3 separate regions of the Homo sapiens genome follow, and regions 2 and 3 are each linked to region 1. The links come from fine-mapping of genetic effects on gene expression. A gene starts in region 1. Each other region holds a variant in brackets. All regions are shown on one strand. Distances are between the middles of the regions. Region 1 holds the start of CACNA1H (calcium voltage-gated channel subunit alpha1 H). Region 2 overlaps CACNA1H (calcium voltage-gated channel subunit alpha1 H). Region 3 overlaps CACNA1H (calcium voltage-gated channel subunit alpha1 H).

Region 1 (4,591 bases):
CCCTGAGGCTACAGAGGCCTAGGCCGCCCGGGCAGCGGGTGTGGGGCTCCGAGGCAGCCCTCTGGCCGGGGCCGGCTGCCCCCGGGACCACAGCAGCCTCCTCTTCCTCTACAAGCAGAGATGAGTCTGACTCACTCGATGTTTGGATTTGAGAAAGGAGAAACACGGGCTTTATGACTTTTTTTGTACAGATTCCTCTTTCGTGTTTAATATTTGTACAGTTAAACACACAAGGTAGGGAAGTGTACACAGGCCGCTCCTGCTGCCAGCCTGTCTCCCCACCTCCGACGGGGGACGTCTGCGGGCAGGGTCTCTCCACCCGTCCCCAGGCCCGGAGCAGAAGCCACGGCCTGGCCACCCCAGCTGCCGGCTCAGAAGGGCCGGTGGGGAGACCCGGCCCTGACACAGGCACCACGCAAGGCCCTTCTCAGGGCACGCGGAGACCCGCCCCCAAGGCCACCTGCTGGGGGGCCCCCTGGACCTCCGTGTACATCCCACAAATGCCCCTGGCCCTGACCCAACTCTGTTCTGGAACCTTCTCTGCAGTCTGTGCCGCTCTGGCCGAGAGTAGAAGAGGCTGCCTCTTCCTCTCCAGCCAGGGAAGGGGCTGGGGAGATGAGACTCCCCCTTGGCAGTGCCAATTGCCTCCCTGCCCCCTACCCTTCAGCTGCGCATGACTTAAGTCAGCCCCGCCACCGAGTTCAGCCAGAAAAAGCGAGTTCACAACCAACGTCACCGCCTCTCTCCACGGAAAAGGCCCTGGCGGCGCTCACAGGCCCCACGGGTCTCCCCACGCACTCGGAACCACCAGGCGCCGGCTGAAAACTTTGCGCCCCTGACTCCAGCTCCTCTGGCCTCCCCCTCCCCCGCGAGGGGCCTGCCTCGGGCAGGACCTTCAGACAGTGAGGGGTGGGCAAGGGGGAAATTCCCGTCCTGGCCAACACCCTTGGGGCCGCGAGGAGTTAGGACCTTCCCTCCCTCCCCGACTCCTCTCCCCTCCAAGCCCGCGGGGGCCTCACCGCTTCGCTTCCACCTTCTCCGTCCGGAGCCGGCCCTGGGGAAGGGAGTCCGGAGGCGCCCGGTGGCCCCCCAAGCCCGCCACTCTCAGAAATTAGAGCGCGGTCCTCCAGCCCCTGCCCTGCACCCCCGCGCGCCCGGCCCACGCCAGGTCCCACCAACAGGGGCGCGCGGGGGCGCATGCCGAGGGAGTCCCGCGCCCCGGGCCCCCACCCTCCCCACGCCCCCCGCCCCCCGCCCCCCGCCGGCCGGGAAGGATATGGGTTGCAGACCAGCCGGAGGCACCAGCTGCGCGGCCGCGTGGTCTGACCGAGGCAGAAGAAGACCGTGGCCGCCAAGGCCGGGTACGGGACGCGCTGCTCCTCGTCGGCACCCAGCTCCGCGCCGCGCTCGGCCGCCGGGCTCTCGGAGGGTGACACGCCGAGCTCGGACCCCCGCTCCGCCTCGCGTCCCGGCGCCCCGGGGCTCTCCGGGGACGCCCCCACCAACGCCGCAGGGCCAGGGGGCGGCGCGCCCAGGGGCACCCGGACCTCGTCGGCGGCCCGTGCGCCCTCGGTCATGGTGGCGGCCGGCAGCACCTGCAGAGGACAGGGGGTGACCCGGGGCCGGTGGCGACGCCCCCGCCCTGCCTCCCGCGGCGCGGAGCTGCGGGAACAGCCGCGGCCGCCGGGATGTCTTTGTCTTTTCTTATTAGAGACAAACGCGCCCCCCGCCCCCGCCCGCCCCCTCCCTCCCTCCAGCGGCCCCACCCCCACCCCGAGGGGCTCCCCGGCCCGCTTCGCGCAAGTTGAAGAGGGTCCCGGGCGCGCGTCCTCGCCGCGTCTCACCTCGCTCTGCTGGCCGGCGGCGTCCCCGCGGGCATCGCCCGGGCGGCGCGGTCACCGCGGACCCCGCTCGGCGCCCGGCCCCGGCCCCGGCCCCCAGCGCCTCCGCCCCCGGCCCCGGCCCCGGCCCCCAGCGCCTCCGCCCCCGGCCCGCGTCCCCAGCCCGCCCGGCTCCCGGCCGCGGCTCGACTCCGGCTCCGGCTCGCCCGGCGGAGGCGACGGCGGCGGCCTCGGCGCGGCGTGGAGGCCGCTGAGCGGACGGGTGAGGCCGGGGCGCGGGGCGCGGGGCGCGGGGCGCGGGCCGGGGACCGGTGAGGCAGCGAGCGAGCCTCGAGCCCGTCCGCGCGCGGCGCAGGAAACTTCGGGCTGAGCGGCGGGGGGCGGGGCGGGGCGGGGCCGGCGCGACCGGGGCGGGGCCAGCGTGGCCGGGGCGGGGCCGGGGGCGGGGCGGGCGGGGGGGTACTGGGGAGGATCCGCCCCCGGCCCGAGACGCGCGCGCCCGAGCGACCCCTCCCTGTCGCCGCCCGGCGCCCCGCCCCCCCCCGGGTGCGGGAAGTTGGACCCCGCCCGCGCCCCCTCCACGCCCCCGCACTGGGCTCCCCGCTTTTCGTGCTCCCCAACAATGCCGGGCGTGGGGTGCACCAGGGGGCGCTCGCGGGAGGCTCCGGCGGGGTGGGAGGGGGAGCACCTACGTCCTTCCCTGCCCCCAACTGCGGGGGCGGCCGAGCCGCCGATGCCGCGCCCCTCCCCCTCCCGCTCCGGCTCCCCCTCCCCCTTCGCGCTGCCGCGCGCGCCGCCGCCGCCCCCACCCCCACCCCCACTACGACGCGGGCCCGGGTCGGCGGAGGGGCGGGGACCGGGCGGGCGTGGAAGGCGAGAGGCTGCGTGCCCCTTCCCCGCCGCGTGTGTGTCCCGGGTGTGCCCGCGCGCGCGTGTGTGATGGGGCGCGGGGGCGGGCGGGGGTGTGCTTTACGGCTGGGCGCTCCTGCACTCGCATCTCTCCCCGACACGCACGGGCAGTTTCCGCGAACTTGTCCTCGTCTCCGGTCCCCTCCCGCGTGGGGATCTGGGGGACCCTGGGGACGGCAGCCTGGTGCTCCTGCATCCTCCAACCCCGCTGCCTCAGCGAGACTCACCCAGGGGCCCCCGAGGAGAAGTGCAGGCCCCTTCCCCCTGCCAGCAGCTGCTCCTTCAGCCAGGCCAGCAGAAGGGCCTTCCCCTGGACCCTCAGAGCAAGTGGTTTGGTCGGGAAGGGGTGGACCCTTCAGACATTGGGGATGGCCAGGCCCTTGTCCCAGGGAGGGCTGGCCGCACCTCGAGGTGCCAGCAGGTGGGGGCAGGTGCCCAGGCTCCTGACTCCCCCCAGGGCACCCCTCCAGGCTGGAAGGGTGGTTTTGCTTCTGGGACCACTGCTTTGTGCACCAGGGAGCTTGAGCTCCCAGGTGTGCACCTCAGCACGCCCGCCAACAAGGGGCCCCTGGTAGTGGGAGAGACCCCTTCTCCCTCCAGACAAAGAGGCCCTGCTCCAGGGCGCACCCTGAGACCCCAGACCCGGAGAGGCTGTGGGGCGGCTGTGGCTTCCCACCTGCGGGTGAGCAGCAGAGAAGCAGGACCTCCCCCGGGTGGGCCACATCGTGCAGGGTGAAGAAGAGGCCCTGCCCAGCTGGGGCCCGGAAGGACACACAGCACCTGGGGTGGGCCGAGGAACTGGAAGGCAGGAGTGTGGGGGCCTGGCTGGGGTACAGGTCCTTTCAGCAGCACCTCCTCCTGTATACGGGAACTTTCAAGAAAAGGAAAACATTCAGTCTATTTTAATGCAACTACTCAGCGATGGAGGGCCACAGCTGGTGAATTAGGCCTTCAAAGGTCCAATTAAGGTTCCAGCCACAGAGGAGCAGGACCTAGGAGAGCCCCGTGCTTTGGACACATCCGTGGAGGGAGGCTGGAGCAGGTGGGGAGACACAAACGCTGAATCGGAGTCCGGTCCAGAGGGCACTTGGAACCTCTGATCTTTTTATCAACACCCTGCTCGTTAAAAGTTAGGGTGGGCCAGGTGCAGTGGCTCACGCCTGTAATCCCAGCACTTTGGGAGGCCGAGGTGTGTGGATCACTTGAGGTCAGGAGTTCGAGACCAGCCTGACCAACATGGTGAAATCCCGTCTCTACTAAAATACAAAAATTAGCCAGGCATGGTGACATATGCCTGTAATCCCCGCTACTCGGGATGCTGAGGGAGGAGAATCACTTGAACCCAGGAGGCAGAGGTTGCAGTGAGCCGAGATCACGCCACTGCACTCCAGCCTGGGTGACAGAGTGGACTCTGCCTCAAAAAAATAATAAGTTAATTAATTAATTAATTAAAGCTAAGGCAAAGCCACAGACTGAAGCTCCAGATTCTAGCTGGGGGCTGTCGTTGATTTGCTGGACAAATGGTAGTTGAGGGTGGACAGTGCGCGGGGCCCGGTTGGAGGGTGGAGGTGCCTTGGCTGTGACCAGACAGACCCGGTTCTCATGCCTGCAGCTTCCGTCTTATGGGGAGGAGAAAACAGTTTCCAAACTAAGTGCCAGGGGGCGCCCAGATAGACGAGGGCGGGGCCTCTGTGAGGACAAGCCGGCAGCCGGAAGAGGAGCAGAGGCTCTTTCCAGCAGCAACGGCAGCCCATGCAAAGGCCCTGTGGCAGGCCGGAGGGAGCCGGGGAGCGGGAAGACCCAGAGGGCGCCTGGGAAGCATCTTGGAATTCTGAACACAG
Region 2 (4,591 bases), 66 kb before region 1:
TTCCAGGGGCACTATGGCCCCTGAAGAGGAAGCTCTGGATTCTGGGGTCACACTGTGGCTACCGTCCAAGAAAGGGTCTCCACTGGGGACCCCGAGGTCCAGCGGCTCAAAGGCAAAGCTGGGGACGGTCAGGTGCTCAGCCCGGCAGGAGGCCTGGCCCCAGCGCTCCCCCTTGGCTGCAGGGTCCCCCCCGGCGCCTGAGCCCTCTGTGGGCTCCAGGGAGTCCCTGTGAGGCGTGGCCTCACAGGACGGGGTCCTGCGCCTCAGTGTGGTGCTGCCGCCCTCTGCCGCGGAGGGCCGCGCAGAGCCCTCGTCCTCCGCAGGGGGTTCCACCGAGATGCAGGGGGGGCTCATCTTCTTCTTTCTGCGCGCACCCAGAGCGGGCTCGGCCTCAGGGCCCCAGGCCTTCGCCTCCCCAGGCTCCCCGCTGCCCAGCTCCGCCGAGGGCCGCCACTGCTCGTCTGCCCGGCCCGGCTTGTCCAGGAAGCCCTGAGCATCCACGCTGTAGAGCCTGCGCAGGTCCCGCTCGCCGCCGGCCACCGGAGAGGCTTCGGGGCCATGGGGCTCGGCTGTGGGCTGCCAGGGGCAGGCGGAGCTGGTGATGTGGCTGACCTCCTCGTCGGCTGGGTCCGAGGCCTCGGCCTCCTCTCCGCCTGGGGCCGCCGGCCGGCTGGAGACGCAGCGCTGTCCGAAGGTATGCTTACGAGTGCGGACGCTGGCGGGCCGTGGGGAGCGTGGTGGGGACTGCAGGGAGCCCCCCTGGGTCACCGGCCTCACCGGGGTTTTCTCACCAGGCTCTGCAGGATCCAGGGTGTCCCTAGGGCTGTCAATCTTCCCTTCCAAGGAATCGGTGTGCACAGCCTCCTGTGGGGGCGTAGAGTCAAAGTGAGGGGCGGGGCCCTGGGAGAGCCCTGTCAGTGGCCAGGGCTCGGAGACCCCTCACCATCCAGGTACTGGAGAGGCCAAACTGGGCAGGTCCCCTGGGTGGCTCCTGACCCTCGAGATGGGGCTGGAAGCCGCTGGTGTGGACGTCCTAGTCTCACTCCTGACCTGTGAGGCTCCCGGGGAAAGCCTGTACCCGCTGCTCTGTGGGCAGAGATGCCATGGCCCCCAGGGGCACAGAGCTGAGGCTGAGGCCACCTCCCCACCCCTGGACATCAGCAGCCCAGCTGGGCACCCCCAGGATGGGGCTCTCCTAACTGCTCCTGTGCGGTACAGGCGTCTTGTACTGGGCAGCAAGAGGTAGGAAAGGGCAGGAAGAGGAGCTGAGGCTGCAGGTGGGCAAGGCTGGGACATCTGAACACAAGCCAGGACTGAAAAAGCCGCTGTCTGCCCACCACGGGACCCATGCCCACATGGGGCCTGAGAAACTGCCATCTGCCCGCCGTGGGCCCTGGGAAACTGCTGTCTGCCCACCACGGGACCTGAGAAACCGCTGTCTGCCCACCGTGGGGCCTGAAGCTGTGGGTCCAAGAAGACTCAGGTCCCTGTAGCCAAGAGCTCTGTAGCCACAGGCTCACAGGCCTGAAGACGCACCTGGGCCCAATGCTCCAAGATCCACCAAGCAGCAGGCAGAAACCTTCGGAGCCCCAAGGACCCAGTGCGACCCTCCTCCTGCCTTGTCCTCGTCTGCTGGTCCTTCAGATGAGACGAGGCATCCCTGCAAGCCCCCCATCCCCGCCAGCCTCTGCTGCAGGCCAACGGCTTCTCCTACCTGTCTGCAGAGCAGCCGGCTGAGACTGGGGGAGCGGGCTGTGCCCCGAGGGGACAGGGCGTGGAGGGGCTCGCCGCTCCTGGCTGGGGACGACACAGCCAATGGGATCTGGAGGGAGGCACAGGAC[T/C]CTGCGGGCGGAGAGTGCACAGAGGCAACGGAGCCTGGGGCAGGGAAGAATCTAAGCTGGCAGCTCTGCCCCTGCCTTCCTGCCCAGCTGCCACCCACCCCCGTCCTCCCCCAACCTGCCACCATCCTCCTTCCTGGCCAGCCCCAGCCCGACCCGTCCTCTCTCTCACCTGCCCACACCCAGCCTCCTCAATCTGGCCTCCATCCTCCCTCCTGCCTGCCCCCATCCTCCTTCCCGCCCATCCTTCCTCTTGCCCTGCTCTGGCCTGACCCCATCCTCCCTCCCACCTGCCCCCATCTTCCTCCCTGTCCTGCTTCCCACCCAGCCCATATCTTCCTGCTGGCTACCATACCCAAGGGGGTGCCGGCCCCATAGGTCTCCATCTCCACCTCCTGCAGCGGGCGGGGGTGGGGCGCCGAGGCAGGCACCACGGGCCTGAACATGTAGCTGTCGTTGGGCAGCGAGAGCATCCTGGACACGGACACCTTGCGTGCAACCAGGTTTGGGGCGTCCCTGGCGCCCGGACTCTCCTGGGGCAAGGGAGGCCTGTCCGCGTCCACCCGGCGTGCACTCCCGGGGCCCTGCGCCATCTCCAGCTCGATCTCGGCGTCCAGCTCCGCATCCTCCCGTGCCTCCTTGTTGCTCTCCTCCAGGTGCTTCATGAGCACGGCCACCACCACGTTCACCAGCACGAACTGGGCCACCAGCACGAAGGTCACGAAGTAGACGGGCGACAGGGCCGGCAGGTAGCTCAGGCAGTGCTTGTCCTCACGGGAGCACTCGCGCAGCGTGTCCTGCGGTGGGGGACAGCTGTGGGCCGGGGTCCACACCCACCCGCGGGTGCCACCCTGGCAGTGCCGTCCCCTTCCCCCTGCCCTGCAAGGACGGATCCGACCCGTTCCTGGGAGAGCCTGAAAAACCGCTGGGGCTGCCAGGTGCCAGAGGCATGGCCGCGGCGGGTACCTTCATGATCCCGTTCCAGTTGTCCCCCGTGGACACGCGGAACAGCGTGAGGAAGGCCATGCCGAAGTTGCTGAAGGTGGCGTGCCTGCTCAGGCCCTCGCAGGGGTTGTCTTCACTGCACTCTGCGGGGAGGGAGACCCCGCCCGGTCAGCCGAGCCCGCTCCGGGTGGAGGCGGGACATGCACCCAGCCTCCACATGCCCCTTGGGGAGCCCAGAGGCAGGATAGCCCGGAGGATGTGGATGACGAGGCCCTGGCGGTTCGCCCTGCCTGGCAGAGGGTGACCCTGGGTGTGAGGTCGGAGCCCCTGGGCCGAGGCCCCTGCTGCCGCACCTGGGCTGGGGCTCATCAGGCCTGGCGGCTGCCATGGAAGAATCATTATTGTGTGTGTCTGTGACTGCGCGTGGCGGGGGATGAGTAGGCGCCGGCTGACCAAAATCAAGCTTACCTGGTGGACAGACACTGGACTGTGGCAACGCCACACCCACCGTCGGGACAGGGCCCGGGGGAGGGCCCTGCAGGGACTGGGCTGCCTGAAGTGGAACCCGGCAGGGGCAGGGCTGGGCCGTCTAAGGAGGGTCCCCACCTGCCCCGCCCAGCCTGGGCCGAGGCTGAGGCCTGGGTGGGGGCCTCAGGAGGCTACGGCCACCAGGTAAGGGGAGACAGCCAACATTTGTCTCCTGGGACCATGTGACGTTGGGCATGGCGTGTGTTTCCAGATGTCTGTGTGTGCACGTCTCTAGGTGTTCTTGCTTCCCCTCACGTGTGGCAGGCATCCCTGTGTCTGTGTTGCTGTGTGCACGTCCGCACACGTGTCACAAGCCTGGGCACATGCCTCTGCGTCAACACGAGACTCGGCCTCGTGCAGAAAAGGCTCCGGAAGCAGGGCCGGGTGAGGACGCCCAGGAGGCGTGTGGCCCTGATCAGGCCCCACGCTATTTGCAAGCATGTGCCTGCGTGTGAGTGGATGGGCACAGGGGCGCCTGTCAGGACCCCATGTGTGCCAGGAGGAGGGCGCAGGAGCCACTCACCCAGCCTCCCGAACAGCTCCACTCCCAGCGCAGCATAGATAAAAAACAGGAGCATGAAAAGAAGGCCCAGGTTCCCCACCTACACAAGAGAGAAGCAGAGCTGGGTCAGACGGGCGGGCAGGGAGGCCTCAGCCCACCCTGCAGGGCACTCGGCGCCTCGGCCACCAGACCCCACCTGCCCACCTTCTTCCAGGTGCTCCGGGCCCGGCCAAGTGGAAGCAAGTTCCCAGAGCTGGGCGGGGACCCCTGTTCCTCAGCCCCATGCCCCTCTCGGGGCACCATGACCTCACCAGGTAGACAGAGCCCACCCCTCTGTGCTGGCCCGCACTGGCTTCTCTCTTCCTCTGCCCTGCCCCTGAGCATCAGCCTCTGGCCCAGAGCCCACTCCACACTCTGCCCAGCAGGTTCCCCAAGGCCTAGCATGCTCTTCCTGGGGGCTCTGGCCCGCCCTGTTCAGCGGCTACCTCAGAGATCCCATGGCGGGGCCCAGGCCAGCACGCAGCTGACTGAGGGGTCCCGGCAGGTGGGCCTGGGCCTCACCCCTCCCCTGCCACGGCTCTCTTGTGAGCCACCCACCAGCCCCAGCATTTGCACACACTGCCCCGCTGGGCGGCGCACCCTCCAAGGCTGGCCAGGCCTGTCCTACGCCACGCCCCTTCTCTGCACAGCTGAGCACCTGGTGGAGTGGTACCTGGCCCTCGGGAGTGTTACTTGGACGAAGCTAGGCACGCCGCTGAGGACAGGGTGAGTGGGGACA
Region 3 (4,488 bases), 57 kb before region 1:
TGCGCACCTGCTGGTCGACACCCACGGCATCCAGCCCGTCGTACATGATGTTCACCCATCCATCCTTGGATGACAGCACGAACAGCGACATCAGGGCCTGAGGGCCAGAGCCAGGGTCACTGGCGAGGGTTAGAGCTGGGGTCGCCGGCCCTCTCGCTCCAGGGTGTCCTGGAGACCCCCAGCTCCCGCCCGGCCGCCCAGCCCACCTGGCCCAGGTTGTCGAAGTTGTACTTGCGTCGCACCCAGCGGTAGTGGGCGGCCCGGCACTGTGCCTTGGTGGAGATGTTCCTGGTGTCGGGGCCCTCGCAGTAGTAGAACTTCCCTTTGAAGAGCTGACGGGGTGCGACGGTCACCGCGGAGGGCCTGGCCTGTGCCCCACCCCACACCGGACTTCCTGGGGCGCGAGTGAGGCCCGAGCTGTCCCTCCCCGTCCCGCAGCGGCGCTGCTGGGAGCCACGCTGGGAAGGCAGACCCTGTCTGCGACGGGGCAGACCCCCGGGCACGTGGGGGCCACACACCTGCACACCCAAAATGCCAAAAATGATGAAGAAGGCGCAGCAGATGAGGACGATGTTCCCAATGGGCCTGAGTGATGATATCAGCGTCTCCACCACCAGCTTGAGGCCCGGGGCCCGGCTGATGACCCTGGAGGGGAGTGAAGGATACACTGCAGTCATCTATGGCAGCAGCTGCCAGGCGCCGGCAGAGCTCAGCAAAGGTCCCAAGGTGGGGCCGAGTGGGCGGCCTGCGAACAGCCCAGGACTGCGGGAGGAGTAATGGGCAGTGGCGTCAGGGGACTGTGCTTCCAGGTTGCCCCGGGAGCCCACGGGGAGCCCCCCACCTCAGAGGCCGCAGGGTCCGCAGCAGACGCAGCACGCGCAGAACACCCAGGATCTTGGCGCCACCAGCCGAGGCCATGGCCACGACAATGTCCACCAGGGACACCAGCACCAGCAGCCCATCCAGCAGGTTCCAGCTGCTCTGCAGGTAGGCGTGCTCGCCGGACAGCAGCCCCAGGGCCACCACCTGCGGAGGGCCAATGGCACTGAGCTCAGGCTCAGGCGTGGGGGGTCTGGGGAGCTGGCGCGCTGCTGGGTGGGGGTGGGGATGAGGGCAGAACGGGGACCTGGGAACAAGGGCAGTCCCCGGGCCCCGCGGTACCTTCACCATCATCTCCGCCACGAAGATGGCCGTGAAGATGTAATTGGAGACGCTGAGGAAGACCCGCTCCTGCCGGGAGAGGACGGTGGGGGGCTGTGTCCACTCCACCCCTCCCTGGGGGTCGTGGTGGCCCGGGACGATGGGGTTGGCTGACTCACGGTGCTGCCGGGATCAATGTCAGGCCTCTCCAGGGCGATGGTGACGCAGTTGAGGAAGATGAAGACGAGGACCACGTGATCAAACATCTTGTGTGTGATGACCTTCTGGCAGGAGACGCGGAACCTGGGTGGGCGGGGGCGGGTGAGAGGTGGGGCGGGGCGGCGTGGATGGCAGAGTGGATGGGGGTTGCAGGACAGCCCTGGCCACGCCTCCACTTCAGCCCCGGTCCCTGCGGTGTGAGAAGGGGTGCCCACTCGGAAATATCCACCATGTGCTAGCCCCACCCAGGAGGGACCTGGGGGCGGGGGTCCCGTGGGGTGGAACTAGCCATGCAGCCTCCTGACCCGGCCGCCTCACCGGTTCTGTGGGGAGAAGAGGTAGAGGGCCCAGGCCTCGCGGCTCCGGCACCACTGGGGCTTGTAGGGCTCCAGCACTTTATGCAGGCGGAGGCAGCAGCTCTGTGGGATGAGGCGGCGGCTTCTCAGAGCCTGCGCCTGCCTGCCCGGCCCCCCATCAGGGCCCTCTGTGCTCAGCTCGGCCACCCCTCCCAGCACCTTCTCAGCCTTCTCCATCCTCACTCCTCACCCGCTGGCCTTTGGGCTCTGGCTTTCTGGCCTCTGGGGCCCATACCGTGGAGCCTCCCCCTTCCCTACGCTGGTGACGGCAGAGTGACCCGTGCTGGAGTCCACGGGGCCAGGTGAGCGGGTGCTCTTGGGTCCCTGACTCTGGGAGTGGTCCTTGACCCACGGAAGCCTGAGAGCCTAGCGGATGCCTGGCCCTGCCTCGGCAGCAGCTCTCGGCCAGTGGCTGACCCACGGCGCAGAGCCCAGCCCCCGTATGCAGGCCGTGCGTGGAGCGTTTAGCTCACAGCCCCTAGACGGCAGAGGGGGGACTCTGGGATCATCTGTGGCTGAATCCCTGAACACTGCTGGATTCCTCCCTGGCCTGGCCTGCTTCTCTCCCCTTCTGAATCCCCTCAGTCAACAACACGCCCTGAATCCCATCTCAAACCCCACTTGAGGGAACCTGCCCCAGACAGACGAAGGCGAGTCGGCGGTGGGCCCAGGGCCACGCACTCACGTCCTC[C/T]GAGTCGTCGTCAAGCTCGGCTGCATCCTCACGGTGGCTGTCGATGCGCAGGAAGAAGTCGCTGGGCAGGGCCACCACCTGCCCGTCGCGATCGCGGCACTTGGTAGGCGGGAGGGCGGCCGGCCGCAGGGGCCGTGGGTCCAGGGACTCGGCCCGCCGCAGTGGGGTGGCACGGGGCCCGGGCGCGGCCCTGCCGTCCTCAGCTTCGTCGTCGGTGCTGCCCTTGCCCTCGCCAGACAGCAGGGACTCACGTTCCCCACACTGGCCGCGGCGCTTGAGGCTGGGGGCACGGCCCAGGCTGCTCCAGCTGGAGCGCCGGCTGCTCCAGGCGCCACTGGGGCCCCAGGGGGCACAGGGAGAACTTCGGAGGCTGGCCTGGGGGGTGGCGGGAGTCAGTGACCTGGTGGCATCACTATTAGCACCGACCGCTGTCATTACGGAGCACCCACTGTGTGCAAGCCACACGTGGATCATTTAATGCATAGCCCCGCCAGGGAGGCACGGTGGAGGCTGTGATTTTAGGGGGACACCGAGCCAGCCACAGGCGTAGCTCATGAGGGTCAGGGTGTCCGCCTCGCGGGGGTGATGCCCTGGGCTCTGCTGGGTCAGGGGCCAGAACCAGCCCAGGACCAGACAAAGTGTGGGTGGCCCCCGTGTCCCCAGGAGCACACTGGGCCTGCGGCTCTGCCTCACAGCTGCCCCGCTTCCTCCCCTGCTAGGGCGTCTGGCTCACTCCCATCCTCCGTGTCTGTTGTGGGTGGTACTGCCTGGAGTTCGTTTCAAAACTGCTCCCCTCCAGTCCCCCTGGACCCAGAGAGATGCCCTGGCCGTAAAGGGAATCGGGCTGCTTCTGGTGGCAGCGGAACCCCCGCCTGGCCTGCCGTCTGCTTGCCGGGCACGCTTCTGCCCCTGCTTGCTTCGGTCTTTCTGTGCTGTGCGCTGTGCACTCTGCTAGACTGTTGGGCGCACAGAGCTTCCGCGTCTGCCCCTTCACACCGGCCTCACACAACAGCAGCCACAGCTTCCATTTCCGGAAACCAGAACACTCTTTCTCAGTCTCTGCACAGGCTGGGACTTCAAGGGTGTGGGGGGTGCGGCCCTCACTCATCTTCAGGGAAGGCCATAAGGAGCCAGGCAGGGAAAACCTGAAGGGGCCTGAGAGCTGGGGCAGGAGATGGTCCCTACCGGAGGCTTCTGGTCTCCCAGTGGCGGGTCCCCGGAGCTGCTGCTGCCACGCCGAGAGTCTGGGAGGCTGGGGGCTGCATCCAGGAATGGTGAGCTCTTGGGGGTAGGCATGGGCGTGGCAGCTGTGCACATGATGAGGGGAGGGGACAGGCTGCCTCGTCCCTCCAGGTGCCCGTTGGGGGTCACGGCCAGGGAACACATCTTCAGCTCTGCGGGACAGAGGGAGGAATGGGCCCCTAGAGCTGCCAGGCTCCCAGGACCAGGAATCCCCCAACCTAGGGATTGCCTTATGGGGGCCCTGCCCGGCCAGCCCAGCGTACTCCACCCGCCAGAACCCGGACCACCCACCGACCACACGCACCTGTGGTCTGGAGTTCTCTGAGCTTGTGGAAGTCCTCCTCGAAGTGGACCGACGTCTTGTCCTCGTCCGTGTCGGATCTGTTGGCATCGCCCTAAACCCAACAAAGCACAAGGCAGGCATGAGGGGCCCCGTGAGTGGGGACCCTTCATGCCGGACAGAAGTCTGGGCTGGCCTGGGAGGTGGGGTGTGGACAGAAGGGCCCAGAGGATGATGTCACTGCCAGGGTGGGCAGGTAGGTGAGGAATCTGCCTCTCCCGACCGACCCCTGCCCACTCCGCTGGGCTCCTGGCCTCCCCTCTCCTCATGGCAGCCAGCTTCCCTTCTCTATCCCTCACCTCTTGGCAGGCCCCCCACACCCCTCCCCTCGACCTGAAGCCCGTCTCTCTTCTCATCGCCCTCCTCCTGGCAGCCCCTCTCCCTGCCCCCTCACCTCCGCCTGGAAGCCCTCCACGAGGATGGCCACCAGCAGGTTGAAGAGCACATAGTTGCCGAAGGTCATGAGGGCCACGAAGTAGAGGGCGGCCCAGGAGGAGGTG

What was found. PIP is the estimated chance that this variant, and not a neighbour inherited with it, causes the effect. A credible set is the group of variants that fine-mapping cannot tell apart.
Region 2: its variant is the best candidate, but not a certain one, in a credible set for the expression of CACNA1H in whole blood (TOPMed, PIP 0.56).
Region 3: its variant is fine-mapped to the expression of CACNA1H in whole blood (INTERVAL, PIP 0.99).

The regions. Positions count from the first base shown.
Region 1 is chr16:1,150,724-1,155,314 of GRCh38, reverse strand. CACNA1H (calcium voltage-gated channel subunit alpha1 H) reads right to left here and starts at 2,209. Exons shown (of 35, transcript NM_021098.3): 1 at 1,845-2,209; 2 at 1,279-1,595. The coding sequence starts at 1,577. RefSeq lists enhancers at 588-1,355, 2,730-3,310.
Region 2 is chr16:1,216,254-1,220,844 of GRCh38, reverse strand. It overlaps CACNA1H (calcium voltage-gated channel subunit alpha1 H), which reads right to left. Exons shown (of 35, transcript NM_021098.3): 31 at 3,835-3,913; 32 at 2,805-2,926; 33 at 2,194-2,635; 34 at 1,715-1,875; 35 at 1-864. Among named protein-coding and RNA genes, the nearest start is that of TPSG1, 6.7 kb to the left of the region's middle. The variant T/C (reference allele first, on the strand shown) is at 1,842.
Region 3 is chr16:1,207,325-1,211,812 of GRCh38, reverse strand. It overlaps CACNA1H (calcium voltage-gated channel subunit alpha1 H), which reads right to left. Exons shown (of 35, transcript NM_021098.3): 14 at 4,383-4,488; 15 at 3,953-4,043; 16 at 3,592-3,800; 17 at 2,401-2,781; 18 at 1,678-1,778; 19 at 1,320-1,443; 20 at 1,162-1,230; 21 at 842-1,026; 22 at 519-645; 23 at 207-332; 24 at 8-97. Among named protein-coding and RNA genes, the nearest start is that of TPSG1, 16 kb to the left of the region's middle. The variant C/T (reference allele first, on the strand shown) is at 2,407.